3 separate regions of the Homo sapiens genome follow, and regions 1 and 2 are each linked to region 3. The links come from fine-mapping of genetic effects on gene expression. A gene starts in region 3. Each other region holds a variant in brackets. All regions are shown on one strand. Distances are between the middles of the regions.

What was found.
Region 1: its variant is fine-mapped to the expression of LRRC17 in nasal epithelium (TOPMed, PIP above 0.99).
Region 2: its variant is fine-mapped to the expression of LRRC17 in whole blood (TOPMed, PIP 0.99).

The regions. Positions count from the first base shown.
Region 1 is chr7:102,755,903-102,766,427 of GRCh38, reverse strand. FAM185A (family with sequence similarity 185 member A) reads right to left here. Exons shown (of 8, transcript NM_001145268.2): 3 at 8,482-8,574; 4 at 5,017-5,155. It also overlaps the pseudogene RPL7AP39. Among named protein-coding and RNA genes, the nearest start is that of FAM185A, 12 kb to the right of the region's middle. The variant A/G (reference allele first, on the strand shown) is at 4,199.
Region 2 is chr7:102,857,244-102,868,275 of GRCh38, reverse strand. The region is part of intron 17 of FBXL13 (F-box and leucine rich repeat protein 13); the gene reads left to right. It also overlaps the pseudogene RN7SKP198. Among named protein-coding and RNA genes, the nearest start is that of LRRC17, 50 kb to the left of the region's middle. The variant G/A (reference allele first, on the strand shown) is at 5,537.
Region 3 is chr7:102,908,394-102,919,425 of GRCh38, reverse strand. It overlaps LRRC17 (leucine rich repeat containing 17), which reads right to left and starts at 6,426. Exons shown (of 4, transcript NM_001031692.3): 1 at 6,281-6,426. It overlaps FBXL13 (F-box and leucine rich repeat protein 13), which reads left to right. Exons shown (of 21, transcript NM_001394494.2): 12 at 6,211-6,340.

The DNA of each region.
Region 1 (10,525 bases), 150 kb after region 3:
AGTTACTAAAGGAAAAGTTTATGCATGTATGCCAAATAGTTGAAGAACAAAGGACTTTTGAAGTGCAGAGAAAATGAGAGAACTAATACTCAGCAATTTATCTATCAAGATATGTTTCCATAGAACTTAAAATAGAGCCTAATTTACATAGGAAATCTAAATATTTAAAATAGAGTTTTATTCATTAGTCACTGTTCCGGATCATAACATAAATTTTTAAAATACACAAAAACAAGTAACATGAACACTCTTACATCTTAATCGAATCAGTTTGTTTAAATCATGGGTTATAAATAAAACCAATCCTAGCAAACCATTTCAAGGAAGTTTTTCATTGTCTCCAATAGAGTCAGAAAAACCATATTTATATTTAAAACTGTATTTTGTAGAATACATATAAATATATGCATGTATTATACATGCACAGCATTCTTTGAAAAGTATCAATATTCAAATATCAGAATTTAATAAAATATTATTCATATAAAACCAAATTTAATTTTTGATTATTTAGAAGGAAATCAAGATAGTAAACTCATAAAATTTTACATCTAAACACAACCTATTCAAGTACCTATTCTCCCACTAGATTCCCATCGTCAGAAAGTGAATATTTAATAAGTCAATGAATAAACTGGTTTCTTTTGTAGTAGAAGGCATACACACTTAACAGATGTGATTCAACCAACTATACAAATAGGAAATATGACTAGTCAATTAGCTTACTCAGTTTCTTACATATAAAATATAGTTAGCTATACTTAAAAATTTCACTTGAAAAAACACTTAGGATAAATTATTTTCTTCTCTATACATAGGAATCAACTTGCAAGGCCAGGAAAGATATATTGCTCCTTTCATTACTCTTTTCCTCATTAATGGGCATGCTCTAAGTACTCGGCACTAGTATGTTAGATGTTGCTTTGCCATCAGGGTATATAAAAATATTGAAAATGCAGACAAAAAATAAATTTCATGCTCTTGTTTCCTTTCATGGAAGACTTAGAAGCCACACACTTAAGACAGCACCATCACTTTTATGGAAGGAGTCCAGTTCCTGAATGCTACCATGGAGCTAAGCCCAAACACTGTATGGAACATCTACATTTTCAGTCATAAAGCACGATAAATGTCCTGAAACTCAAGGAACTTATAATGTAGAACATAGCTGAAGCAGTGCATCTGTGTTATAGTACTGTCTTCTTGGAGGAAACATCTTTACAGTGAGCCAGGAAGCCCTCAAAGTGATGATGGAATTTGCGGTTGCAATCAAGTTCACTGTTTAAAAACCTCTCCTAGAAAGCCAAGAAACTAGGATCAAATCCTTGCTATTCCACTAATTAACTTGTGGAGTTGAGAGTAAACAATTAGACATTTCTAAGTCTAGTTTTCCTCATCTGTGAACAGCCAATTGTTCATTAAGTAAAAGGGGCTGGCCAATTTAGGTACTCAATACATGTTTGCTTTCAACCACCCACCCACCCACCTACTGGCACAAAGGCTCCAAACTCTACTTGTAAAATCCACCAAAAAGAAAGTTACTGCATTATATTTGTGTATAAATGGTTTTTACAACATCTATATGTTGGATTTTTTTTTTCTGCTCTCTCTGGAAAAAAATTAGTTTAAGCCTTGCTTAAGAAAAAAGAAGCTAAAGTAAATAAATCCTGACCAAGAACGCATATATTCTCAGTTTGTTTTCTGTAAGTCAAATGTTTAGAAATAGCAATGTATTTTCCCATAAAAACAAGTTTTAAGATTCTCAAGCCAGTTTATTTAAATATAGCCAAAATATATACCTAATTTGTGTTATATAACCATCAGCATTTAGCACAAAGAATTCATTGAAATATATATCCAGAGTTCTAGGTTGGGAAGATCTTGGGAGAAATAATTCCCACCAAAATTCCAGGAACTAGAAAACTGGGACTTACTTTCACCAGCCATGACTCTAATCTTCTCACCCACCAGGATGTGAGACTAAACACTGCCCGCTCTCCTGTACCCCTCCCATCCCAAACCCCAGACTACAAACTCCAAAAGCATGTTCATACAATCCCTTAGGACAAGGATGGAAATAGAGGTGATAGGGGAGAGGAAGGCAAGAAACTTAGAAGTGTCTGAAGGGTGATTTTTTAAAAGTCGAGGCACTGGGGTGTGTCCATGGAATTAAGAGGGGTTTCCTGTCTTAGTTCTCTCTTGTATATGCTGAAAAACCAAAGCAGAGTGAGGAACAAGGACTAGGTGGAGAAAGCAAGGCTGAACATGGAAGCTTTTCTACAGTTACTTCTGTGAAAGTAACTATAATTTGAAACTGGATTAAATTTTCCCTTCCCCTTCTCCTTCTCATTGCTGTACTAGTATTACACAAAGAAGCTGTGAGAAACATCTAAAAGAGTTCTTTGCATTGAGGCAGGGTGATAATGGACCACTGGAAATGAGGTGGGAAGTAACATCCCAAAGGGGATGGTAGTAACTGAGAAAATAAGAAAGTATATTTAATCCTTCTACTCTACTCTGAATTCTTTAACGACAGGTTTCACCTCCTGCCCAACTTTGCACCCTTGGTGCCTGGAAATCTGGCACACAGTAGGTGGTCAATAAATGTGTCAAATGAATGAATAAATATAACTGTAGTAGATGCTATATTCCTCATCCAGATCCCACATCATAACTGAAGGGCTTATTTTCCTAGCTATTGGAGTACTGCTGGCAGACAGCCCTCAGCTGTCAGCCGTCTTTGGGAATTACCTAGCAAAAAGGAGTCACTTCGGCCCAAGATCATACTCCTTCCTGGGGCAGCTTGCATCTAATGATTGGGGATATAAACGTCCAGCTCCTCTCACCCCAGCTTGAGACAACTCTGAGGGACCATCCCAGCTTCAGAGCTCTCCGTGTGGGTTACTGAAACTGTATCACAGTCCAACTTCTCCCATGGAAATCTGGCTTTCTTCCTTTACATGGCATTGGTCCCAAGAGGCCTCCCTAGTAAATTCGCTGTGCTCAAATTTCCATTTCAGAGTGTCTGCTTTCAGGGAAATTCAACCTGAAACAATAGTCCAAAAGAGGACCTAGATTTAAACCAGCTAAGGAAAGGTATCTGATTTCATATTAAAGGTCAGTAAATATAAAAAGGTTTTATTAAGGCTAAGGAATTAACTTTCTTTTCCAGCAATGTATTTCCATTTTAGCTACTTTAAGTAATCAACAGACCTAAGTACTTTGAGGACTGCTTCAAAAAAGACCACCTGTTTTACTACCATCTAGGCAATTAATGATAAACTGTACCAAATTCAATTTATCTAACTTAAAAGAATGCAAAAAAGAAACATTATGAATTTAGTGTAAACATGGTATAAAGCATTGCAGAGAACAGACTGCTTTTCCTGTGGATGTTAATCCACATCTGACTTGATAAGGAATTGTTTCTCCACTAAAAGCTACTAAATACATTAAGCACAGTATTTTTCATTATGATTAAGATAGTTAGAAATGCAATGCTTATATAAAAGTCACTTTTAAATTATGAAGAGTTACAAACTACCAGATCTACTTAAGGTACAACTGAATAAAAAATAAATAAATGAATAAGTAACAAAACCATTTGCTTCATCTGGGTACAGCTCCATATGTACTTAAGCTATTTTGGGCTCAAATAATACTTTAACCTTGCAAGAATGCTTGAGGTTTAACCATTAAATTGAGGCTCCAGAACTATTTCAAGCATATAAGTATGCTTTTTAAAATTTTTTTTTAGAAGACTACTTGCCAAATTACTACATAGCATGATTAGCACTAACCATGCTTTCTAATGCCACTCTATAACTCTTGCTCACAACTAAAATCTGAGAGTTTTGCCAGAGTGTACAGATACCAATATCCAGCTTTACTATAGAGGTGAAATGAGTGGACTATATATGGAAAAAGTCCGAATCTGTACTTCCTGGAATATGGCTCAAAAGGCATTTAGCAGATGTTTTATACTGGATTAGTGATTATTAATTCTATCTGTATATATTTCAGAAAACATACCTGGATTTGAATCATCTGCTCTGTGGAAATTCAAGAAGCAGCTGAGTGACACTGAACACCAGCATGCCCTTTGCCATATTACCTCATCATTATACTCTTATTTTCTTTCAATAATGCAAACATTAACTATGTAATATTTCTTGCAGAGACAGGATTTAGAAACCAC[A/G]AGAGGATATTTATCAAAGAAAATGGAAACAACAGGGTGCTGAGAAAACCTGGTGCCAGTACAAATACACGCAAAACATTTAAAATAAAGTTAGTATCAGAGTTGCTATAATTACCTTCCACCAAATGTTTCATTAATTTAACCCTCAGCTTTCTTATGTTAACATAAAAGCAATCATTCAGTACCCATCTTTACCTAACACTGCTTTTACTTCATCTCCTGCATGTATTTCCTTGCTATTTGTTTCCTATTATAAGAAAACACAGGCTGGATGCAGTGTGGCTCACACCTGTAATCCTAGCACTTTGGGAGGCCAAGGGGGTGGGTCGCTTGGGCCCAGGAGTTTGAGATCAGCCTGGGCAACATGGCGAAACCCCATCTCCACTAAAAATACAAAAATTAGCCTAGCGTGATAGCGCACACCTGTAGTCCCAGCTTCTCGGGAGGTTGGGGTGGGAGAATCACCTGAACGTGAAAGGTGGAGGGTGCAGTGAGCCAGTGTCACGCCACTGCACTCCAGCCTAGGCAACAGAGCAAGACTCTGTCTCAAAAAAAAAAGAAAAAAGAAATGCATTAAAAATTAGACTTACTATTAGTTCCATATATAACAGCATAATCTTTAATCTCTTGCACAAATAAAATTAAATTAGCTTTATGAGTCATTTTATTTTTATGGTTTTTTTTTTTAAAAAGATGGTTAGTCTGCATTTCATTATTTAAAAGGCCAGTTTCCTGATCCTTTTTTCAACTACAGAGTCATCTCTTAAAATTTATGCTATGTGGAAAGTCTCAGATGTATTATGCCTTTGTCAGCTTACCATGAACACTTCCTAATGTAATATCCCCAGCAGCAGAAGACAGAAATGATGATTCTGTATAAAGATACTTGGCTTTCAGCAAACCATCTTCGGTAGATACAGTAACAGAACTTCCCTGCAGTTTATCTATGGTCACAGCCTAGTAAGAGAAAGACTAATCAGTTCATTATAAAACAAAGACTGGTAAAAAGCCAAAATGCTACCTGTGGAATCAGTGGATAACTACATAAAATGTTACTACCTAGTACACAATCACTTTATTGACTCTGATTCCCTACCTCTAATTACGAGATTCTGAGCAATAGTGCATTCTCTGCAGAATATGGAACAGATCCAATACATTCCCCCATTGACTTAGGTCTCCTTTAATTTCTCTTAATGTTTTATATGTCCTATATAAAATTCTTAATCTTTTATTAGATTTATTCCTTTTAGATATTTTTAAGTGCTATTGTACAAGGTATCTTTTAAAATTTCATTTTATCCTAATTGACTTTGTATTTGATCTTAATCCAACAACTTCACTAAAGTCACTAATCCTAATAATTTATCTGTACTTTTAAAAATTATATATGTGTTATTATACTGTCTACAAGTGATGGCTTCATTTCCTCCCTTCCAATCCTTATATTAATACTTTTTTTCCTGCTTTTTCTTTCTTTTTCTTGCCTTAACCATCTGTCTCAGGCCCGCAATTCAACAGTGAATAGCAGCTAGCAGAAGCAATGGGACAGCAGGCATCCTTGTCTTATTCCTGTTCTCAAAAGAAAAGTTTACAACATTTCACCATTAAGCATGATGTTTGCTATAGATATTTTTAAAATAATTTTTATCAGATTAAGGACATTCCCTTCTATTTCAACTTTGTTTGATTGCTTTTGCTATTTAAATCATGAATAGGTTTTGAATTTTAGCACATACTTTATCTGATTCTATTGATTTATCATGATTTTTCTCTTTTAGTACATTAATTAGTGAATACACTATTATTTCTAGAACTTTTCCACTTGACATCTAATAAGGCAGTAGCTTTCCACCAAACTAAATGGAAGGAATTTAAATTTACTATTTAATGACAGAACAAAAAGTAGATTTAAAAATCAGTATCTTCCTGACAGAGGTATTGCTATAAATTTTCTTTTCTACATGAAAAGAAAAATTTTTCACTTAGTTATTATGAATATATATGTAAATACATATATATAGTTCTTACAAATAATGAAAGCCAAGTTTTAAGGAAGTACTGTGGCTTCATAGCCCAGACTGAGAGGAAAACTGACAACTATGTCATCAATTCACCAAATAGACGAAATGGGTTTCTGTGTTCTCTGCTAAGTTATAAAACTAAACTTAGATACTGAAATTAACACAATTTAAAAACAGTCATGTAGAATAATGATGCTATTATTTATAGTGCTCATTTGATTCTCACAACCTTGTTAAGTGGACAAAGCAAATATCACCATCCTGTTTGCTGAATAATGAAACTGAGTCTCTGGGAAGCTAACTGGTAGGTCTAGAACCCGTCCAAGTTATCTTTCCTGTGATTCCTTTACCTTTATCATCATCATCGTGGTAAGCATTACATTAGACTTAGCTATGTGCCAGACGTTGTTTTAAGTATTTTACCTGTATTAACTCATTTAATCCTCTTAATAGAGGATTTTTTTAGTTTGTTCTATTACTATTACCCAATTTTCCAAAAAATTGAGACACACAGAGGTTAAGTAATTTGTCCAGTTATAGAGCTTAGTGAATGGTGGAGCCAGAATTCAAACACAGGTAGTTTGGCTCTGAATATATTCTGTGCTCTTAACTAATTCACTATATTTGTCTCTCAAATATCCAAATCACATTTCTATGAAAGTTGTGTATTAAAAGTTAATAGATTTCACAAGTATTTATTTTATGTTTTATAAAAACTACAAACTTAGAAATATACATTAAAAATCAATACTATATGTAATAAAAATAGGAAAAAAACCCTAGACTGATTCTTTAGTACATAACAAAACTCAATCAAGAAATAAAATTGTATAATAGCAAGTAAAACACATGAATATTCAATAAACCATAAACATTGGAACAAATAAATAACTGAGAGGAAACAGTGGCCAAGATATTCAAGGTAGCAAATGATTAAGATATTAAATTCTTTGATACTTATATTTGAATGCAAATGTTACAATATTCTAGTAACTTATTTCAATAACATTAGCCATCATTTACTGAGTTTGAAGGGGCTGTAAATTTGTCTAATTTCCCTCTTGCACCTCCAAGACCACAGCAATCTAAAAAGTAAAACTAAATGCCATCTCAAAAAAGCTGCAGCATAAGGCCACACAGTGTCTTTCAACACTTTCCTAGTATAATTTACAGAGTATTTTTAAATGTTTAGGTTTAAACAACCTCCCACGGGGTCTAAGAGAAAGGTGATGGAAGATAAAACAACAGAAACAATTACTGTTATAACCTACCTTGTTTAATTATGCCAACAATAATCTACATATAAAATGTGCTCACAACTCCTCCCCACCAACTCTGAAAATAAAGTGACCATGGAATATAGCAAATTTGTAGGAAGGTGATGGAAGATAAAACAACAGAAACAATTACTGTTATAGTCTATCTTGTTTAATTATGCCAACAATAATCTACATACAAAATATGCTTGCAACTCCTCCCCACCAATTATCTGAAAATAAAGCTGACTATGGAATTTAGCAAATTTATAAGAAACAAAAAAGCTCTTGCAAATTGTATAAGTGTAAAATAAAAGGAAACTTTTTCTCAAAGATACATTATCAATCACATTTTTTAAATGACAATTTATAATTCCAAAATTATACCTTTACTCTTAATACTATGCTAAATAACCAAAAGCTACAAAAGGAGTTGATTAAAAAATACCAACTATCTTCCTATAACAACAAAAATCCCAATAGCTACTATAAAAAAAAAAAAAAAAAAAAAAAAAAAAAAAAGCTGTGAGAGCAGTAAAGCTATCTAATGGTGCCACCTTGTGGAAAATACTGAAGAAAGCTGAGTTTTGAAACATCCTTCAATTTGCCTAAGGGCGAAGTAAAAAGGTCTTAGAAAATACTCAAATAAACCTAACACAAGAAAAATCCAATCCAGTTACTGGTGATATTACTTAATCATCTATTTTAATCTATGATGATAAAAATAAAAATCTTTTCAGAACTAGAGTTAAATAGTAAGCATTTAAGTTTTTATTGATTCCAGACTAGGAACTAAGTAACTGTCAAAAGTATTAAACCACAAACTAAAACTTAAGTTGTATATTATTTCATCACTTCAATTTCAAATTTGAATTTACTTATGAACTAAAATGCATTAAAAAGGGAATGTTATGCTACGAACTTTGTAGAACCTACCAACTTGGTGAGCCAAATGGAAGCAAAGTTGCAATTACTAAAAAAAAAAAGAAAGTTTCAATCTTACACTTTTATCTGATGCATGAATATCTATATTTCCATAAACTGTTCCCAGACAGATCACTTTGCCTCCTTTTGTTTGAACATGCAATTTTTGACCCTGAAAGACAAATTTAAAAATACATATAGTGAAAAAGAGAGTAAGTGTGACTTATACTAGTGAAACATTTTCAATATTTCTGTATTAATACTGACAAAGCAACAAAAGAACAATAAGGAATGAAATAGAAACTCACTGCTTCGAATAATGACATCAACTGGAAAAAAATGTCAACTGCTGTTAAAGGGATTAAATAAGCCACTTGGACTCTAAGGGAAAAACAAGAGATACTTGGGTATTCTGGTAGCTTCACTGATGAAGGACTTGGGAATCAAAAATCACTGTGACCAGCTAACTAAATATCCACAGTGATGAAGATGACAATAATAATCAGTTACTATTCATCATTAATAACAATAATAGTTATCACTTATTTGGCATTTTCTCTGCACCAGATACCATGTTAGCTACTTCACATGAACTATCATTTAATCCTCACGACAAACCAGAGAGATAAGTATTACATTTTTCCCATTTTACAGAGGAAGAATGCCAAGATTCAGAAAGGTAAATCACTTTATCAGGGTGACACAGAAAAAAACCCAAAATCTAAAGTAACAATTAGAATCAAGTTCTGTATGATTCCAAAGCCCACACTCTTAACGCTGGACCGGTCTGAAGGACAGAATACACATTAGGTTAACAGCCCACTTAAACCTTCTAGCACAACACATCCCAGAAACTAAGTAAAAATGCCTCCGAGCACAAAACAGCAGTCACAAGCCAGTTAGCCTATTCTGCAAGACAGAAAACAAAAGTATGTGTATGTGTGTGTGTGTGAGTGACTTGATTTTGGACTTGAGAACTATGGCAAACACTACTATTGGCTCATCAAAATCCATTTTTTTCCAAAGTAAAAGCAGTATAGCTTGACCCATGGCAAGACCACATTTTCCAGCTTCCTTTACCTCTTAGGTGTTGTTAAGTTGTTACCAACATAACGTAAGTGGAAATGCTATATGCCATTTCCAGGTTGGTGCTTTTAGAACAAGTGTGCCTTCTCTGTGCTCTTCTCATTCCACCAAGTGGGTCCAGAATATAACAAGGCTCTAAAAGATGGCAGAGCCGGAAGACGGAAGGAACCTAGAATCACTGAATGAAAAAGACCCACCCATACACCTGGACACAAGTAAGAAATAAACTCATATTATATATGAGCCATTAGATGTTTGGTCTATTGTTTTTTGTTTTTGTTTTTAGACAGAGTCTCGCTCTGTCGCCCAGGCTGAAGTGCAGTGGTGAGATCTCGGCTCACTGCAAGCTCCACCTCCTGGGTTCAAGCGATTCTCCTGCCTCAGCCTCCCACGTAGCTGGGACTACAAGCGTATGCCATCACGCCAGGCTAATTTTTTGTATTTTTAGTAGAGATGGGGTTTCACCGTGTTGGCCAGGATAGTCTCGATCTCTTGACCTCGTGATCCACCCGCCTCAGCCTTCCAAAGTGCTGGGATTACAGGCATGAGCCACTGCACCCGGCCTAGTCTGATTTTTTTTTAGAGTAGTTTATTTTCCCTTAATCATTATATATGTCTTTAGTTTTATTACATAAAGAGATATGGATCACTTGAGCCCAGATGTTTTCCCTTAATCATTATATACGTCTTTAGTTTTGTTACATAAAGAGATATGGATCACTTGAGCCCAGATGTTTGAGGATTCAGTGAGCTAGGATCGTGCTACTGCACTCCGGCGTGGGCAACACATCAAGACCCTGTCTCTTAGAGAAAAAAAATCTGTACTATAGCATGGTTAACTACGTTATGCCCAGAGACATGAGTCTGAAGTCAAATTATATTTAATATACTCCTTATCAAATATGTGATAAACCTTTGAAAAGACTATCCACAAAGCACTTTTTTTTATTTTTTAATTATTTTAATTATTTTTATGTACAGAAAACACAACAGTGTACATTTAACCCAGTTTAGTGGCAAGTTCTTTAGCCTTTGCC
Region 2 (11,032 bases), 51 kb after region 3:
GTTACAGTGAGATAGGAGGAATAAGTTCTAGTGTTCTATTGCACAGCAGGGTGACTATAGTTAACAATAATGTATTATTGTATATTTCAAAGTAGCTAGAAGAAAGGATTCTAAATGTGCTCACCACAAAGAAATGATCAATGAGGTGATAGATATGCTAATTACTCTGATTTGATCATTACACAATGTCTACATGTGTTGAAACATCACACTGTATCCCATAAATAAGCACAATTACTTTGTGTCAGTAAAAAACAAAACTTAAAAAATATCTGGCCGGGCACGGTGGCTCACGCCTGTAATCCCAGCACTTTGGGAGGCCGAGGTGGGCAGATCATGAGATCAGGAGATCGAGACCATCCTGGCTAACACGGTGAAACCCCGTCTCTACCAAAAATACAAAAAAAATTAGCCAGGCATGGTGGCAGGCACCTGTAGTCCCAGCTACAGGAGGCTGAGGCAGGAGAATGGCATGAACCCGGGAGGCGGAGCTTGCAGTGAGCCAAGATTGCGCCACTGCACTCCAGCCTGGGCGACACAGCAAGACTCTGTCTCAAAAAAAAAAAAAAAAAAAAAAAAATATATATATATATATATATATATATATGTCTAAGTCTATCACTCCCTGGCTCAGAGTTCCTTGGGGACTCCACACTGCTTACAGTATCAATGGGCTGGTGGACCAAGCTCTTCCTGAGGCGGCCCTTGGCCACCCCTGCAGCCCTGCTTCCAGCTGACTCCCGCCTCTCATCCTCAGCTCCAGACACACAGAACTGACTCTCCTACAGCTCCTCAAACATGCTGTGTTCTTGTTTCCCCATCTCTACAAGTTATTCCCTCTGTCTGAAACACCTTCTCCACTACTTGTCCACCTAGTAAATTCTTCTTTTTTTTTGTTTGTTTGTTTGGGTTTTTTTGGATACAGAGTCTTTCTGTGTCACTTAGTCCAGAGTGCAGTGGCATCATCATAGCTCACTGCAGCCTCAACTTTCTGGGCTCAAGTGATCCTCCTGCCTCAGCCTCCCAAGTAGCTGGGACTACAGGCACATACCATCATGACTGGCTGATTTTTCAAATTTTCTTTTGTAGAGATGGGGTCTTGCTATGTTCCCTGGGCTGGGCTGAAACTCCTGGGCTCAAGTGATCCTCTTGCCTTGGCCTTCCAAAGTGTTGAGATGTTAGGCGTCAGCTGTCATGCCTGGCCTTGCTTATCTCTTAAGTTTCAGCTGTGGGGAAGCTTTCCTAGAATTTCTGGGCAGGCTTAGGATCTCCTTCTTTGTATTTCCACTGCACTTTGTATATGTCTCTACTGAAGCAATCAGCTTGTTATATTCTAGTGTCTGTTCCATGCCTGTCTCCCTATAGCACTGTAAGCTTCCCAAGAGCAGAGACAGGACCATCCCATCTTTGGGATGCCTAGCAAGATGTTCATAGGAGGCACATAAAATGTTTGATCAGTGAGTGAATGAATGAATCTGGCACCATTTCCTTCCTCTTAACCAAACACTTAAGTCTTCTTTAAATTCCACATTGTCTCAGCTATGCTCTGGGCTGGAGTGGAAGCACTTACAGCTGCGTGTCTTAATCTGATGATACAATTGCAAGAGACCACCCATCTGCATGGAACACACACAAAAATAAAGCCTGAGTCCAGTGAAGCAAAACCTCTAAAGCAGGAAACACATGAAATCACTTGGGATTCAAGAAATAGGAAGAATGAGAGTTGAAAGGAAGCACGGTAGTTCAGAGACAAATGGATTTGCCGTGGATTTTCAAAAAGCACATAACAAGAAGTCTGCCCAGTTATGGGCTTTTGGTTTTTTTTCATATGGAGCTGGACCTCTCCTAGTCCTCCTCAGGCCCTTCTCTCCAGCCAGTGGCCTTACATGACTATGTTGGTCCCATCAAGCTAGTGATAGTGGTTCCTTCTCACAGAGGTTATGGTCCATTGTCTCCTGTTTCTAGCAAAGTGCCTACTAAAAACACTGCAAACAGAAGCGACCAACTTGAGCCTGTCACTTCCCTCAAGATGGATCTTTGGCAGCATGACTCTCCTCTCTACCTCCATCAAGTAGGAGGCAAACAGTCTCAAGGCAAGTTGGTCTACTTTCAGGTAACAGAGATGCCAATTTTCCTTCCTTCTATAAGCATCACAATACAGAATCTATGTCTGTGTGGTGATCAAAGCTTGCTTTCCTTTAGACTTGTAGGTCAATAAATTAGGTCAGAGAGGTTGATACATTTTAAAAAGAAATATGATTACAAAATTCATACTAACAATTGATTAAGTAGAAATAAACAAAAATAATTGAGAAGACTAGTAGTTCCAGCTACCGAGGAAGCTGATGCTGGAGGATCCCTTGAGCCCAGCAGTTTGAGATCAGCCTGGGTGATACAGCGAGACACTGTCTCTTAAAAAGTAAAATAAAATAGGCTGGGCACAGTGGCACACCCCTGTAATCCCAGCACTTTGGGAGGCCAAGGCAGGCGGATCACGAGGTCAAGAGATCGAGACCATCCTGCCCAACATGGTGAAACCCCGTCTCTACTAAAAAAAAAAACAAAAATTAGCCAGGTATGGTGGCGCGTGCCTGTAGTCCCAGCTACTTGGGAGGCTGATGCAGGAGGATTGCTTGAATCTGGGAGGGAGAGGTTGCAGTGAACTGAGATCACGCCATTGCACTCCAGCCTGGTGACAGAGCAAGACTCCGTCTCAAACAAAAACAAAAACAAACAATCAAACAAAAAAAACACAAAAATAAGTAAATAAAATATTGAGAAGAAAAGGTACATTATATTTATAAAAGCATAATTACTAACTAGAGTAGAAAAGGGAAGATCGCTTGGGAGATGAAGAGAAATTTTCGAGAACATTGTACATGACAGTATTATCAGTGAATTTAGAAAGAGGATGTGCTAATTGAGATAATAAATATTTCCAAGTATAACTTTTGTTCTTTATTTCTGAAAGAATGCAGTATGCAATACCAAACAGAGCAAATCTTTCAGAAAGAAGCATGTGAAATGTAAACCCTGATTCAAAGAATTCCAAACGGAAATGCATTTCATCCAAAAATTCTGAGAGTATGCCAGCAAGATAAGAGAAAATTGAGTCCGTATAAATAGATAATTTTATAGGTAGACTGATTCACTCAACAAATATTTACTCATTGTCAACTATATATCATACACATTGTTAAGTTCTGGGAGTACCAAACTGAAAGAGTACTGGTCTCAAGGTACAGTCTAATGGCAAAATAACAACAAGAAAAGCAACATCACTGTATAGTTAAAAGTTACTAAAAGCATGAATTCAGAGTATGGGTTCATATCTCAGCTGGTGCCATGGCACTTTGAGACCGCAGGCAAGTTACTCAATTTCTCTGTGCCTCCATTTCCTTCTCTTTAAAATGGTGATTATAATATTACCTACCTCACAGTGTTGTTATAAGGATTAAGTAAGGCAATGCATGTAAGCTGGCACATGGCAAGCACTATATGCATCTTAGTGATTATTTATTTGAATTCTGACATAAGATTTGTTTGCTGAAAAGGAGATGGAGGCATTGCACCACAACAGCACAGATGAGTTAGAAAATGAACACTTGGCTGGGTGCGGTGGCTCACACCTGTAATCCCAGCACTTTGGGAGGTCAAGGAGGGTGGATTACCTGAGGTCAGGAGTTCGAGACCAGCCTAGCCAGCATGGTGAAAGCCCATCTCTACTAAAAATACAAAAATTAGCTGGGCATGGTGGCGGGCGCCTGTAATCACAGCTATTTGGGAGGCTGAGGCAGGAAAATCGCTTGAACCCAGGAGGCAGAGGTTGCAGTGAGCCGAAATTGCACCATTGCACTCCAGCCTGGGCGACAAGAGGAAGACTCCATCTTAAAAAAAAAAATGAACACTTGTCTCTGTTGTCTCTGTGGAGGAGTCAAGGGAAGCTTTTTAGCTTTTGGGATGCAGCTGAAAGCTGGAGGAAGAAGCAGATGATAAGGCCTGGAGGCATAAGGAGGGTTATGTGTTGGGATTCACAGATAACTCAGTGCTGTCAGAGCATGGCCAGAGAAGAGAGGGGATGTGGAGGGAGATGAGGCTGGAGAAAGAGATGGAGGGCAGAATGTGGGTGGCCTTGAGTGCCCTGCACAGCAATTCAGGCTACATGCAGTATGCAGTAGGAGCCATTGAAGAACTCTGAGTAGGAGAGCAGGACAGATTTGTGCACAAGAAACATAACTCTGGTGGCAGTGTGGATGATCTATTGAAGAAAGGATGAGCAATTGCAATGATAGCTAGAAATAATGAGGTTTTGATAGTGGCGGCAGAGGGGGCAGATTTGAGAGATATTTAGGGGGTGGCATTGGTAGGGCTTATTCATTGGCTGAATATGGGGAACAGGGAGGCAGAGAGGAGACATAGACGATGCTCAGGTTTTTTATTTGGTCAGTTGTGAACATGGTGGTGCCACAAACCAGGAAAAGAACCTAGGAGAGCAATTAGGGCTTGGAGACAAGATACTGAATTCCATTTTGGACATGTTTAATACTAGTACTAGCACATCTCTCTAAACTATGGGCCCCTTTGATTCTGGGTGACAGAGAAGACAAACATCCATCTGACTTTTGGAATCTTTGTTTTTGTTTTGTTTTACTTTGCTTTGTTTTCCTCAGGATATCTGGAATCATAGGAATTCAGTGTGTTCAAATTCAAGCATTTCTGAAAGAAAACTCACACAAGGATTTTCAGTACCATCCCCCCCCCCAATTTTATCCCCTCTATCACAGCAAAAACTTATACTCTGTTTTATCCTTAAAAACAAATTAAAAAGGCATGAAAGAAGCCTTCTTATGTTTACTGACTGTCGGGGGACTTTTTAGATTTCCCATGATCTATACCCCCAGTAACTACATCCTGGAGTCCTGGGTGCCCCATTCCATCTTATTTCATAGAGTGCATTTTCCAATATCCTGAATTCAAATATCAAATACCCTAGGTTATATAGATTTCCCATATAGAGAAATTGGAGCCCTATAAAGAGGGTCATAAAGGTACAAAATGCAGAGGAAGGAGCCATTGTATTTAAATCAAAGGAAAGTCCATCATGAGCATTCATCTTTCACAGACTCCTGACTGAAGCTAGCAAAAAGAATAGGAAGAGCTCAATGAAATCTCATGGCTTCCAGTTTGAATTCTAGTTCTCTGAAAGTAACAGTGCTGAGTTAGAGGTGCCTATGACACATTCAGATGTCTAGTTATCAGTTAGAGAACAAGATCTGTATCTCAGGAGGGAGATCTGGGCTAGATCTAGAGATGGCTGAAGTGGTCAAAGCCATGGATGAGAGTCACAAAGAGAAGAGAAGGTCAAGTTCCAAGCTCCAGGGAACATCAGTATGTATTGAATAGATTTGGAAGATGAACCTACAAAGGAAACTGAAAACGAACATCCAGAGAAGTAGGTGGAGACAGAGGTCAGAGTAATATCATGAGAAACAAGGAAGATGCTATTTCAAAAAGCAGGGGATGGTCAGCAGAGTCA[G/A]GCTTCAAAGCTGGGTCAAGTAATATGAAGATAGAGCAGTATCCATCAATTTTTGTAAAGTAAAACTGTTCATCTATGTATATAATACTTGTACATGTTAACATTCATAGCTGAGTACTTTGCTTGAATATTAGCACATTTGTGCTGATGGTTTGTTTAGAATAGAAAGTAAACTAACCAGAACTGTGTTGCTTTGTATAAAGAAATAAAGCCTAGTGTAAATATTTTATATAATTCTTTGTTGATACACAAAAATATTCAATAACAGACACATATTGGGTTTTTCCTCCAAATTATGCTATTTTCACAAACACTAGTAATACAAAAAGAAATATGAATAATGAAAAAACATATTCATATCATTGCGCACCCTCCAAAACGTCCATTTCTTTTCTTTTTTTTTTTTTTTTTGAGACAGATTCTCCCTCTGTCGCCCAGACTGGAGTACAGTAGTGCAATCTCAGCTCACTGCAACCTCCGCCTCCTGGGTTCAAGCAATTCTTCTGCCTCAGCCTACCGAGTAGCGGGGACTACACGCCTGGCTAATTTTTGTATTCTTAGTAGAGACGGGGTTTCACCACATTGACCAGGCTGGTCTCGAACTCCTGACCTCATGATCCACCCGCCTTGGCCTCCAAAAGTGCTGGGATTACAGGCGTGAGCCACTGCGCCCTGCCCAAAACGTCTGTTTCTTTTAATACACATATACATACACTATACACACACATATGCAGATGTGAATTTTTTTTTTTTTTTTGGAGACACAGTCTCACTCTGTCATCCAGGCTGGAGTGCAGTGGCACGATCTTGGCTCACTACAGCTTCTGCCTCCTGGGTTAAAGCGATTCTCCTGCCTCATCCTCCCGAGTAGCCGGGATTACAAGCACCTGCCACCATGCCCGGATAATTTTTGTATTTTTAGTAGAGATGGGGTTTTGCCATGCTGGCCAGGCTGGTCGTGAACTCCTGACCTCAGGTGATCCACCTGCCTTGGCCTCCCAAAGTGCTGGGATTACAGGCATGAGCCACCGCGCCCGGCCTGCAGATATAATTTTGTGTACTGCTTTTTGAACCTAAGTATGTTACTATATATTCTTTATAACAAACACTTCTCATGTTTGCAGAATATTCTGGGTGTACTATAACATCTCAACAAATTACTTTTTAAATAAAAAGGGGTAAATATACCTCTTCTAATAAAGAGATCTATGGTAGTCATCTTCTGAACCAAGTGGCCCAACAGCATCACCAGTTGTGGAACAACTGGACATATGTGCCTCCCAATGGGATGCTATAATAATTCAGGAGTATTTTTGCAAAAAAAGTTTACCTTGAATCTAATCATAAGGAACAATTAGAAAAATCCAGAATGTGAGACATTCTGCATAATAACTGGCCTAGACCCTTAAAAAAAGTCAATGTCTTAAAAGAAAAATTTAAAGAAAAAAAGACTAAAAAGACATGATAACCAAATCCAATGCACAAATTGGGTCTTGGATACAAAAAAATTTGAATGTTGACTTTGTACTAGATATTACAGTATTACTGTTCATTTTCTTGGGTGTCATAATACTATATATGTCTATACTATATATGCATAATACTACATAGTTACATAGGAAAATGTCGTTATTCCTAAGGAGATGCACATGAAATATTTAGGGATAAAGCATCATGATATCTGAAACTTATTTTCAAGTAGTTCAGGGAAATTTATGTATATTTGTGTGTATATATATATGTGTGTGTATATATATATAACTATATATAAACTATGCATATGTATATAAAATTTTATTCATACATATATATGAATAAAATATGTATGTTCATATACACACTCAACTAAATAAATGTGGCAAATGTTTATAATTGGTGAATTTATATGAAGTGTATGTCAGTATTCTTTATAACCATTCTTTAAACCTTTCCGTACATTTGAATATTTTCAAAATAGAGAGTTGGGGAAGCATGTTTTCTGTTTATGTTGGTGATAGTCTAAGCCAGATGTAGTATGACTCAGCCGTATAGTAAGTACACACCACACACACACACACACAGAGCATTCCAACATTTGGTAACTAGTTCATTGACATTGTCTATGTACATCAGCTAAACAATTCCAGATGAAAAAGTGTGGGGAAAGTGTAGTGTTCAAGGATTTGTCTGCTCTCAAATGTCTGTGTGCATGTGTCTGTTCCTGGCAGTGTTCCATCTTCCCTCCCACTACTCCCAGTGACCCCAAACTGAACTACTTCCCAACAACTCACACTTTGCACATGAAGTCTCTGTCCATGCTATTTCTTCGGCCTGAAACACTGTTCCCATTGTTTCACTTGTCAAAATGATACTTAATCTTTAAGGCTTGATTCAAAATCTCCTTCCTCTGTGAAACTCTTTTCTAGACTGCCATCTCTTTCTTCCAACTGGAAGCATTCATTCCCTGCTGTGTGGTCCCTATAGCTCTCTTGAAACACATACTTCATTCTTTCTGTAGAGAATGAGTTGGTACATAAGGAACCTCATTATAGTGACTTATGTACCCACTCATATTCCCCAGAGAGAGAAAGTTCTATTTAATTCTGTTGCATAGGATGAAGTCCAGATTCCTTAGAATAATGTACGAGGTTCTTGTGACTTGGTGCTTGCTTCCTTTTGAGCCTTATGTCCTGATATGCCCCTCAATGAACGTGATACTGGAGCTATAACGAAGCCACTTTTCCACTCAGGACTCCTGGGCCCCTAAGATTCAGGCCCCTTAATTCCATTAGCAATGGAGGAGCAAAGTGCTCCCCAGGATTCCTGTGAATTTCTGGTGCCTCACATTCTCATGCAACTTGCAATGCTGGTGACTTCCCCAGGCCACCACTCCAGCTGCTTTCCTCTGCACTTCAGCTGACCATAAAATGTAGTCCCTTTTTATGCTTTGGGAAAATAAAAGCAAAACCTCTCTCCAGCAAAAGCATTCATGAGTTTGGCTGACTTATGAGGGAGACCAAGGATGATTTCCATTGCAGTGATGCCACAGCTTTCCTGAAAGGTAAGCATCAATCTGCCCTTTGCCCCACTGAGACCGAGTCACTCTATCTTGCTGTTACCTCTTGCCTCCTCATTTTTGGCCTGTCTTCCCACTCCACTCTTCCCACTCCACTCTTCCTGTCCCTCCCAGGGCTAAAACCTTGGCATCAGAAATCTGTAAAATGTAAATGTCACTTGTTTCAGAGAACACCTCCTAATTTGGAGCATTTATGAACCTCACAGTGCCAAACAGAATATTTACCTTGCTGGCTCTGACATTCTTTAGGTCACTAATCTAAAAAGTTTCTGAGAAAAAAAAAACCCACATTAAAAGTGAATCCTGTTGCCTGAAATAGTGTGTTTCACTTATTAGGCAGTGAAATTCACTGGCCTCCTGTAACCAGCATGAGGCAATTTTTAGTGGAGGCCTCATCTCTGCCGGCTCGATTTGTTGCTGCTCAGTTACAAAGATGTGTTTACTTACAGCAGAAAGGGCTTCTAGTTACTTGTCTAACACATGAGCAGGGTGACATCTCTTGCTCCCCGTTTTGCTACTATTTTTGTCATCAGGGTCTGAAGTTGCTAACAAAAATATATTAAAAGTGGGTAACATCTGTATTCATCTTGGACTTAAGGATGCTGTAGGAATATTTTCTGAGTTTTATGTACTTATACAATTATTACATCAATCTTTTTTTAAACATTTTTTATTGAGACATAATTCATGTACCATAAAACTCACCAATTTAAAGTATACAATTCAGTGGTTTTTAGTATGTTTGTTTGTGGTGGAACTACCACTAGAATCTAATTCCAGAACATTTTCTTCACTCCCAAAAGAAAAGCCCTTCCCATTAGCAGTCACTCCTTATGCCTGTCCCACCCTGAGCCTGCTTTAGGCAACTGCTAATCTACTTTCTGTTTTTATATATTTGCCTATTCTGGACTCTTCATACAAATGGAATCAAACAATATGTGGCCTTTTGGGTCTGTCTTCTTTTACTTAGGATGATATTTTCAAGTTTCGTTCATATAGTAGCATGCATCAGTACTACTTTTATTACCAAATAATATTCCATTGTATGGACCTAACATTTTATTTATCCTTTCATCAACTGATAGGCATTTGGGTTTCCACTTTTTTCTTTTATTTTTAGTTGACACATAATAATTGTACATATTTGTGGAATGCAGAGTGTTATTTCCTTATGTGTAATGATCTAATCATGGTAGTTAGTATCCATCACCTCAAATATTTATCATTTTCTTTGTGTTGTGAGCACTAAAGATCCTCTCTTCTAGTTTCTTGAAAATATACAATAAATTATGGTTAACCATATTCACCCCACAGTGCTGCAGAATACCTGAACTCATTCCTCCTATTAAACTATAATTTTGTAATTGTTAACCAACCAATCCCCATCCTCCCTCCCTGCCACTCTTCCCATCCTCTAATTCCCACAATTGTACTCTACTTTTTCGTAGCTCCCATGAGTGAGGACATGTGGTATTTATCTTTCTGTGCTTATCTTATTTTGCTTAACATCATGTCCTCCAGGCTCATCCATGTTGCTGCAAATGACAGGATTTCATTCTTTTTTGTGGCTGAATAGTATGCCATTGTGTATATATACTACATTTTCTTTATTCAATTGTCTGTTGATGAACATTTGGGTTGATTCTATATCTTAGCTATTGTGAGTAGTGCTGTAGTAAACATGGGAGTGTAGGTATCCCTTTGATATACTGAGTTCCTTTCCTTTGGGTAAATACCCACTAGTGAGATTGCTGGATCATATGATAGTTCTGTTTTTAGAGAAATTTCTATGCTGTTTTCCATAATCGCTGTATTAATTTATATTTTCACCAACAGTGTATAGGAGTTCTCTTTTCTCTGCATCCTCACCAGCATTGTTATTTTTTGTCTTTTTGATAATAGCCATTCTAACTGGGGTGAGATGACATCTCATTGTGGCTTTGATGTACGTTTCCCTGATGATGATTTTTCATATATTTGTTGACTATTTGTATGTCTTCCTGAGAGGTTTGGAGGTTCAAGCAGGGGAGTGCAGCTACTTGTATCCTAGACCAATAACCCATCCTCCTCTATCAGGGTTGGCTATCCTCTTTGACCCAGCACGCAGCTTTGGGGAGGGACACACATGGAACGGTGAGGGAAGAAGGGGACACCTGCCTAGCCAGCCAGATCAGCCGAATCAACCCTGGTGATCAATGGGGTGACAGATATCACAGCCACATCGCCCTCACATATGTCTTCTTTTGAGAAATGTCTGCTTGGTTCCTTTGTTCACTTTTTAATCAGATCATTTGTTTATTTGCTATTGAGTTGTTTGAGTTCCTTGTATATTCTGGATGTTAGTCCTTTGTTGTATGACTAGTTCACACATGTCTTCTCCCATTCTATAGGTTGTCTCTTCACTTTGTTTATTGTTTCCTTTGTTGTGTATAATCTTTTTA
Region 3 (11,032 bases):
AATGCTTCAATGCATTTGTTTAGAGTTTATCATAAGAATCTCCTTTTATTTTTAGATCCGATTTTATTCCTGTCCTTCAAAGTTGTCTCTTTCATCATTTTTATTTCTATATGCCTTTTCATTAGCATACTGCCTTCTCTGTAGCAGTAATTCTTGGAATATATTTTAGGAACAGCAGTGTTCTGGTAAATGCTTAACAACTGGCTGGTGGCAAGGGTGAGGAGAAGCACCAATTCCTAGTGTTTACTGATTTCTGTGGTGTAAATAATTCCACTGTGGCCGATTTTAAGCTATCAACACAATGTCATTGAATGTGGAGTTGGGAAGAGATGCTAACAATCAACTCCCATGAGCTGTGCAAGCTGGCTCCAGTGACCACTGTGGGAGGTCCCTGAGGTTTCTCTAACACTGTTTCAGGAATTACTTAAGATCCTCCAGTCCTGTAATATTGAATACCACTCAGTTCTTTCTTTAGGCATTCTGTACTATGATATATAAGTGTGTGTGTATATGTGTGTATGTGTATATATATGAATATATGTACATGTATGTATGTACATAAACATAGAAAAAGAGTATTATAAAATCCATAAATCATTGGTGAAAATCTGAACTTACAAAGTAGATGATTTGGGAGCCATTTTTTTGTTTTGTTTTGTTTATAGACAGGGCCTTGCTCTTTCACCCAGGCTACACCCAGCTACATAGTGTGATGATAGCTCACTGCAGCCTCAAACTCCTGGGCACATCCAGCTAAATTTGAAAAATCTTTTGTAGAGACAAGATCTCACTATGTTCCCCAGGCTGGTCTCAAACTCATGGCCTCAGGCAATCCTCTTGCTTCAGCTTCCCAAAGTGCTGGGGTTATAGGCATGATCCACTCTGTGTGACCCAGGGTGTAGTTTATATCACATTACAAATTATTTTTTAACTTAAAACATATTTATTTTCAATCATACATTGAAATGGCTTTTTTTCTCCTTAGAAATTGAAGGTAATATGACAGCTATGCATATCTTCTTAGGGACATTTATTTTACAAATGAAGTTATACCTTTAGTAGGCAATAGATAGAAAAGTAGGACCCAAAATAAGAATTTTGTTTGGCTCTTCCTTCTAGTTCTTGCCATTGAGAGAATATTCAGAATAGATACTACTTGATACTGATTTTTTTGCCATATAAAAAAGTATACTAAGTTATCTATGATAAAAATACATTTCATAATGATTCTCTGTTTTTGCTCTATTTTCCATTGTTTCAAATATGCTTGGGTATGCAAAAATGTTCTCGAAACTGTAAATAAGCAGAGAAATGTTGGTTGTTTCTGCTGTCATTCTCTCTTCATTGCTTTTAGTATTTCTTTCCAAAAAAAGTACTTGCCAAGAGAAAAATGTAATTTGTTTGTCCTTGGCAACAATGATTTGCCAGCTTTTTATTTGAATATTTTTTCTCACTTCTTTGGGGACTTGTTCAGTTTTCTAAAGTTGAAAATGAGGGCTGCCTAAAGCTCATGCCCATTCCAGGAAATTTGTTGCCTCTAAATGTTTCCGGAACTAAACACTTTCTATTTATTCCTATTGTCACAACCTAGGTGGCACTCTCAGCACCTCATTTGGCACAGTATCCTGGTGGTGCTGCCTCTGGTCTCTCCTCCCTTCAATCTGTTCTATCTCACGCTACAAGAAGTGTCATCCTGGAACAATCTTCCTATCATGTCTTTGACATGCTTAAGGTCTAGGTTCTTCCCTTACTCTTCGTTGACATTCTCCAACCAAACTTCTCTGCCTAGGTTTCCCAAGAGAAGCCCTTAACTCCAGTCATCTGATTGCTGCATGCTTCACATTCTCTATAGCTGCAGTGCCTTTCTCCTTCTCATGGCTAATCTACAGCCTTCACACCTTAAGTCTCGCCATCTACCAGAAGTCTGCAGTGATTTTTCCTTTTCCTGAATTATAATAACAACCTTCTTTCACTTGTTCACCATGTATTGATCAACTAGTATGTGCAAGGTGTTCTGGGCATACAGTGCTGAGTAAAGCTATTATGATCTTTGCTCTTTAATTGAGTCTTAAATGCTATAGTGGAGTAGTATCCAATTGTTTTTTATATAGATGAATTGACCTTTCAATTGGCTTGGAAATTTCTTATTATCAGGAACTATCATGATCTATAGTCTCACCAGTGCCTATCAAAGTGGGGCAGACAAAGTAAGCTGTTGTCTTGACTGGACAACTTCAAGGTCTACCCTGTAAATAGAAGGCCAGATCACTCCATTTAGGTTTTCTGCAGAATTCTATTACTTGAAATGCCTCTGTGAAACCAGAGAGCCCAACACTCAACTCAAAAGAATCCACATGCAAATTCCCTCTTTTACAGAGTAGGCCTTGTCTTGGTGATTTTTTTCAGAGAATTTTTTATTTAAATACATACTTTTCCATTCATCTTAGTAGTAAGTCCTTCAGGTGTTAGAAATTTAACACAAATGACTTCAATTCTTTAATGGAAAAAAACCCAAAAGAAAGGAGAAAAAAAAATCTTTGTAGTTTCTATAAGAATTGTAATTTCTCTAAAGATTATAGTGGTAGCAGAAAAATAAATAAATAAATCACAAAGAGAGGACTCACACCCCCCCCCATAAGAAACAGTTATCAAATAATTAGAAAAAGATAAAAACAAGCTGTAAACATTGCCTCAAAGCAGAATTAGAATTACCAAGTGTTCTCTGGGCTGGGAAAATGATGAATCAGATCTTACTCATGTAGGGGACACGCGTCTTTGCCAAAATTCAGAATAAAGAGTATGAGTATTGCACAAAATTTGCCACCTGTGATTTTGCTGTCAACTGACACTTTTCCCGTCCCTAGCAGCTTTAAGTCTGCAGAACTGTAAATCCCTAGAAAGGCCTACAGGGCCACCCAAGATTCCTGAGCTTTGCCTTCAAACTGATGGTTCCATGAGGTTCCACTGTGAAAAGAGCTATCCAGAGATTTTCAATCCAGGAGTCACTTAGTCTAATGAACAGCCTCTTTTATCTAAACCAGAGGTTCTTAGCTGGGGAGCAGTGGATTCCCCCAAGAGGATCAGGGATAGAATTCAGGAGCTCCATGAATTTTAATGGGGGATATAAAAAACTCATCTCGGCTAGTTGCACTGGTTAATGCCTATAATCCCAGCACTTTGGGAGGCCGAGGTGGGCGGATCACCTGAGGTCAAGAGTTTGAGACCAGTCTGGCCAACATGGTAAAACCCTGTCTCTAATAAAAATACAAAAAAAATTAGCCAGGCGTCGTGGTGGGTGCCTGTAATCCCAGCTACTTGGGAAGCTGAGGCAGGAGAATCACTTGAGCCTGGGAGGTGGAGGTTGCAGTGAGCCGAGATCATGCCATTGCACTCCAGCCTGGGTAACAGAGTGAGACTCCGTCTCAAACAAAAAAAAAAAAAGAAGAAACTCATCTCTACTTTTATTAACTGTAATTGAAATGTAGGTAAAAACTACAGAAGTATTAGCAGTCTCTGGGACATTTTTACTCATATAAATCACAAATATATTCTTATCACATTTCAATTGTTATAAGTATTTCAAAATATCACTGATAGTTCACAATCACAGCAGTTATTAGAACTGCCACAAAATCTTACTTAATATGTTAATAAAGAAGCACATATATTACTATTCTACTCATAAATGTTTTTTTATTTGGTAATTATGTATTTCAATATAATTGGCTGTTTTTGTAATCTTATATATTTTATTTTATGCATTTAAAAACTTTATGCCAAGAAAGGGGCCAGAGACCTCAGCTGACTGCCAAAAGCCAAAGGTGTCTGTGACATTAAAAAAAGTTAAGCACTCCTAGCTCAGTTCTCATTTTTGATATTTGTTAACTGATCACATGGATTTAAAGAAATTGAATACTAGGTGTAGATCGAGGTATACATTCAATGTGAAATCCTTCAAACTCTTGGAATTATTGTATGCACCACTCTTGGAGATAAGTATCCATTTCATTAAATGGAAGAATAATACAAAGTCCATAAAAATAGTTAATGTGTTACTATCATTTCACATAGTAGTAGCAATAATATTACATATAGTTTTAAATCTTCTACTATGTCCCTGCCGATTTTGATTGTTAAAATCACCCTCAAGATAATACTGTTACTTCTGTATTCTCATTTAATTGTCACATCTTTAAAGGGAACAAGCAGACCAGATTACATCCATGTTCCAGATGAGAAAACTGAGGTTCAGGAAAGCTGGAGGCCCCACAGTTGATCAGTGTAAAAAAAAAAAAAAAAAAAATATTTTAATCTCCACTTAACAAATGAGAAAACAATCTCTGAGAGATTAGGGAGGTTGCAGTAAGTGTCAGGGCTTGGATTTACATCTCATTTGGCCGGATTCAAAAACCTTGTGTATTTTGCACTGTGTCACGCGGCCTGCCTCACAACTCCTTTCTACAGATTATAAAGCTAAAGGATTGCTAGAAATGACACCCTGGTGTGCCTCTCCCCACCCCAAGAAAATTGTACTCAGTTGAATCACAGGGTGTACCCCAGGGAGAGGAAGATAACGCATTTCCAAAACTTTAGCACAGCTCAGTCCACTCGACAGCCCCAAGAGAGGGGGCGTGTCTTTGGGATATTAGCACTGCTTTCTCCTTCAGGCCCTGCCCACCTAGTCACTGGTGAGTCCAAAGCCTTCCCCCTCGCTCTGTCGAATCTCACGTACACAGCCCTTCCCAGATCGGGATGTGTGTTCTGAATCAAGTAATTCGCTATGGCATGCAAATCATTATATCATATAGATGTGTTTTTCAAAATCTGATTAATGGTCAGTGCTTGTATATCTTATTTCCCATTTATGGGAGGTAAACTTTATTCACCTGTGTGATTTTGAGAGGCAGAGAAGCATTTTCTCCTCACTTTTCATTCTTTTTGCTTTCTAATTTGCTATTAAGCTGTTGCATATCACAAACTAAGAGCATGATTGCTAATTCCATTAGAAGAGCAGATAGTAGTGGGAATCCTTGACCTCTTAAAAAGTGCCAGGCTTTCTGGGCACGGTGGCTCATGCCTGTTCCGAGCACTTTGGGAGGCCAAGGCGGGTGGATCACCTGAGGTCAGGAGTTCGAGGCCAGCCTGGCCAACATGGTGAAACCCTGTCTCTACTAAAAATACAAAAATTAGCTGGACATGTTGGCACGCGCCTGTAATCCCAGCCACTTGGGAGGCTGAGGCAGGAGAATCGCTTGAACCAGGGGTTGGGGGAGTGGGGAGGAGGTTGCAGTGAGCCAAGATCTCACCATTGTACTCCAGCTGGGCAACAAGAGCGAAACTTCGTCTCAAAAAAAAGTTCCAGGCTTTGGAGGGCTTGGGAAATTGTCCACGGAGTGTCCTCAAACTGCGAGCCCTCGTATGGTAGTACAGGCTCATCCTAACTACCCTACTTTTTTCTGGAAGCTGTCATTTTGGTCATTGTGGTAATACCATATTTAATCTGTTTCAACTCCAGCGAGATTTATAGTCTCTGATGTTGCTTTTGATTCTTCTCATGTGTTGCCTGCTTATTTGCAAACTGGTCTTCTTAATCCATGCTTAAACTCTGCATATCAATTAGTCTTTCTTTAACTATAATAATGAAACTGTCACAAACTCATGCATATTTAAACCTATTTTTTAAACTCATTTGCTTATCAGATCTATTTTAAGAGCATGGTCATATTCAGTTTTGCCTTCTGTCCCAAATCCTCACTCTCCTGTAACAGTCTCCATTTAAATGTTTACAAAGGATTTGTCCTTTTATATATTTTGCACATTATTTTGGTACTCCAGAGATAAAACCTAAAAGCAACAATACACTCTGCAAATTTGGTTTCACTTCCAAACAATATGATTGCCTCCCCCACCTCACACACACCAAAAAAGCTTTATCCCAGTCAACTTTCTTAAATATCTAGGCAAATATTATTGAACTATTAATACTTTCACTTGAAATGTATTACAAGGTATTAAATGTATTGTGTGTTACCTTATATAACACTGTAGTCTCCTTTAATTAACAGGTAGAGAGTTAACAGTAAAGTTAAATGTTGAACATCTGCAAGAAGAAGAGTTGAATTTACAGTTTTCTTTGTCATAGTGGCTTAAGAAAGATTTGAGAGAACAACGGAAGTATAATACTTTCCTTCCTCTCTTTTGTCTTTTCAGGCACTTCCACAACTTACAGAATCTTAGTTTGGCTTATTGCAGACGGTTCACAGACAAAGGCTTACAGTACCTGAACTTGGGGAATGGATGCCACAAGCTCATCTATCTGGACCTCTCTGGCTGCACCCAGGTTTGTCTTTCAGTCTTCTCTTTGCTGCGGTGTGTGAGGAAGTTCTCCAGAGAATGGGCTGCATTCAGCCCTCACGTTATACTAATGCTGTGCACGGACCGCAGCACACTTTTCAGAGGTTTTAAATTACATGGCCCCAGCTGCTGAAATTTTCCCCAGGATCGCTATTATAGGCTCTTGGCTTCCTTCCACTGGAGTGTCACACAGACAAACAGGCAGAGCTCATTGGATGAGGAAACGGACCACTTTTGTGGAGACAGTCTGAGCACAAGTCTAAAGCAGAGTCCAAGTCCTGAAAACTCTGGAGTTGCTACCAAGACACAAACAAAGAGAATGTTTTGAGGGAGAATTTTGCATGGGATTCCTGAAAAGTCAATTAACTCCCACATGGGTTTTTTTTTGGGGGGGGGGGGGTAAAATGCTATAAGTGATAAATAGGAAAAGAAAATACAACAAAAACTCATAATTTAAAAAATTGCATTACACCGTTGGGCTGAATAACATGAAGATTTGAGATCTGCGTGGGAAAATATTTTAAGTTTGAGGGAACAGGACTTGGAAAGTTGGGCAGAAAATTGGATCAAGTTGCAGAGGATAGGGCATGGCGCTTTGGATGTAGCTACTGCCTCATTGATAGTTTCTTCTGCTTTAATTTCAAAAGATTTAAGCCATAATTCTTTTAACTTATTTTCTTCTGCCTCTCTGTGTATTTTATTAATTTGGTGTCATAGTATGTTCATTATTCTATGAGAATAATAGCATAGGTGAGAACTGGCTGAAATATTGATAGTTATCATTTCTTGAGTCATTACCATATGCCAAGCATTGTGTTGAGTGCTATACACAGATCAGATTTACTTCTGATACAGTGCTGTGGTGGTATGTATTTACTATGCTTATTTACAAATGAAGAGACCAAGGCTCAGGGTGGTTGAATAAGTTGCCCAAGTTTGCACAGCTGATGAAAGCACATGGTACTAGTACAGTTTTAAGCATCTGTTGCTAGATACTGGGGCAGGCAGAGTTCCCTGGGATAGTGGGAAATACAGGGGCAGCATGGGTTTCTCCCCCAGGGTTCTTGAATGGATAGAATTCTTACCTAGTCACCTCCACTGACATCTTGTGGTATCCTGATGCCCTGGGTGGTCTGGAGGGAGTTGGGGCAAGGAGGGGAGGATTCTAAGTTAGGGCTGTAAACATCTAACATTCATATTTGTTTAAAACTGATCTGCTGATGTGTAGCTTTTTAAACATCAACATCTACCATAACTTTATGACTGAGATGGCATTGACGTTCTCCTCAGCATGACTGAATTTTAGACCAGCTTCTTACTGACTCTAGGCCCTGACTTCTTGTTTTCTTGTTTCTTAGAGCATTTGTTTTAGAAAACTTGGAATTATAAGTTCTTTCTCTGCCTACTTTGAGATGTCTTTTTAACAAAAGCTTCTTGACAGTTTTACAACTCAGGAAAGTCTTCCTCAAGGACCTGGGATCTATCCCTTTGATATATAATCATCAAAGAAGATATCTCTCAGTTCCTGTGGGTGGGTAGAAGCCTAACTTTGATGGGCACCAATTAGCAAATGCCAATGGCCCAATCACAGAGAAAAATATTTGCAAACTCAGGAACAACTTAATGTGCTTGACATATCCCACTGATAAGCCTGCCCCTTAACTATAAATCCTTCAGTACTTTTCTAACTCGCCGTTGTGCTTAAACCCTCCTCATGGTATGACTTACCTCCTTCTTCTTATCAATTTCTCAGTTACCATGAGGCAATTATTGTAGCAACAACACACAAATGTATACACAAGTGTCCTAAGGATAAATATTCTCAGACACAGTAAAGTTGAAATGAGAGGCTTCAAATCTATGACCTACTGCCCAGATATGCATACAAAACACACATAATTGGAGGAGGTGAAGCAAGATGGTGGAACAGAAGGCTCCACCCATTGTTCCCCACCCAAGGACACCAAGTTAACAACTATCTACAGAGAAAAAACACCTTTGTATGCTTTTAGGCTGGGCGCGGTGGCTCATGCCTGTAGTCCTGGCATTTTGGGAGGCTGAGGCAGAAGGATTACTTGAGGCCAGGAGTTCAAGACCAGCCTAGGCAACATGGTGGGACCCACGTCTCTACCAGAAATGCAAAAAATTGGCCAGGCATGGTGGTGCATGCCTCTGGTCCCAGCTGCCTGGGAGGCTGAGGTGGGAGGATTGACTGAGTTTGGGAGATTGAGGCTGCAGCGAGCTGTGATCCCACCACTGCGTTCCAGCCTGGGAGACAGAGTGAGACCTTGCCTCAAATAATTAAGTAAATTTGTTAATGCTTTTCTCTTGCACGCCTGTATTTTGTTAGGAGTGTTGGCTGTCACCCTTATGGGTGAAAAAAGGTATCATACCTTTCTGCCCCATGGTACTAACAGGACAGAGACCTCAGGTGTCTAATAGCTGCTTGGTGGTGGTAAGGGGTAAGAGGAGCAGTGCATGGGGATTCACGTGGTGTCTAAGAAGGTGGCATCCAGCAGGGCATAGGCTATTTACAGTTGAGAGCCCGTGACAAACTGGAAAACAGAGATTGGAGCCCGAGCCACGCTGAAGCACACACCAGGCTGAGAGCTTTTCCCAGGCATCGCATACAGCACTCCATGTGAATAAAGACCCCCTCCCCCCAACACACAAAGAAAAAAAAAAGAAAGAAAAAGAAAAAACACCTTCATAAGAACCAAAAATCAGATGAGCAGTCATCGTACCTGGTTTTAACTTCATATGACTGAAAGAGTCATTGAAGAGATAGAAACAATAGTCCTGAATCGCCAGTGCCACCCCTCCAACATGGTGCAGAGAGCCTCTCTGGGTGCTGGGGAAGGGAAAATACACCAATTGTGAGGCATTGAACTTAGTGCTGTCCTGTTGGATCAGAGAGGAAAACTGGACCAAACTCAGCTGATGCCCACCCACGGAGGGAGCATTTAACCCAGGCCTAGACACAGGGGAATTGCCAGTCCCAGCAGTCAGAACTTGAGTTCTACAAACCTCACCACTGAGGGCTACAGTGCGCTGTGCCTCCAGGTAAACTTGAAAGGCAGTCTAGGCCATAAGGACTGTAACCCTTAGGCAAATCCTAGTGCTCAACTAGGCACAGAGACAGTGGACTGAGGGGTACATGACATACTGAGACACCAGCTGGAGCAGCCAAGGGAGTACTGGCATTGCCCCTCAACCAGCCCCAAGCCTCACAGCTCATCGATCCAAAAGAGACCCCTTCCTTTCCCTTGAGGAGAGGAGAAGGACGAGTAGGGAGGACTTTGTCTTGCATCTTGGATACCAGCTCAGCCACGGCAGGATAGGGCACCAGTTAGAGTCATAAGGCCCTCGTTCCAGGTTCTAGCTCCCAAGTTACATTTCTAGACACACTCTGGGCCAGAAGGGAACCTGCTGCCTTGAAGGAAGGGACCCAGTCCTGGCAACATTCATCACCTGTTAACTGAAGAGCCCTTGGGCCCTGAATAACTAGCAGCAATACCCAGCTACTACATTGAGGGCCTTGGGTGAGCCTCTGTGACTTGCAGGCTTCAGGTGAGACTCAGCATATTACCAGCTAGGGTAGCTATGGGGCAAAACTCTTGCTTGCGAGGGAAAAGCAGTGGGGACAGTCTTACACCTTAGATACCAGCACGGCCACAGGAGGGTAGAGCACCGAGGCAGGTTCTTGGGGTCCGCGATTCCAGGACTTGACTCTTGTATGGCAATTCTGGACCTGCCTTGGGCCAGAGGGGAACCCACTGCCCTGAAGGATGAGTCCCAGGTGAGGCAGCATTCACCACAAGCTGACTTAAAAGCCCTTGGGCCATAAGAGAACATCATTGGTAGCCTGGCAATACTACTCATGGCCTGGGGTGGCGGTGGCTACAGGGTAAGGTTCCTCTGCCTTTGGAAAGGGGCAGAAGAGTGGGAAGGACTGCATCCTATAGTTTGCATGCCAGCTCAGCCGCAGTGCAATAGAACACCAAGTAGACTTCTAAGGTTTTTGACTCTAATCCCTGATTCCCAGAGGGCACCTAAGGACTCACCTGGGGTCTGGGGGACCTCACCACCCTGAAGAGGAGGACACAGGCCTGGCTGGCCTTGCCACCTGCTGATTGTAGAGCCCCAGGGCCTTGAGTGAACAATGGCAGTAGCCAGGAAGTGGTTACAGCAGGCCTTGGGCAAGACCCAGTGCTGTGATAGCTACAGGTCTGACCCAGTGCAATCATAGTGGTGGAGGCCACAGGGGTGCTTGTTTCACTCTACCACCAGTTTTGGGTGGTTCAGAACAGAGAGACTCTGTTTGGGAAACAGAAGGGAAGAGAACAAGAGCCTCTGCCTGGTAATCCAAAGAATTCTTCCAGATCTTGTCCCAGACCAACAGGGTGGTACCTTGACAAGTGTGCGAGAACCACAGCATTACTGGGCTTGGGGTGCCCCCTAAAGCAGATACAGCTTAGATTACAACACTCAAGTCCTTTCAAATATCTGGAAGGCCTTCCCAAGAAGGATGGCTACAAATAAGCCCAGGCAGTGAAGACTACAATAAATACCTAACTCTTCAATGCCCAGACACCGAAGAATACTGGCATCAATACCATCCAGGAAAACATGACCTTACCAAATGAACTAAATAAGGCACCAAGGGGCAATCCTGGAG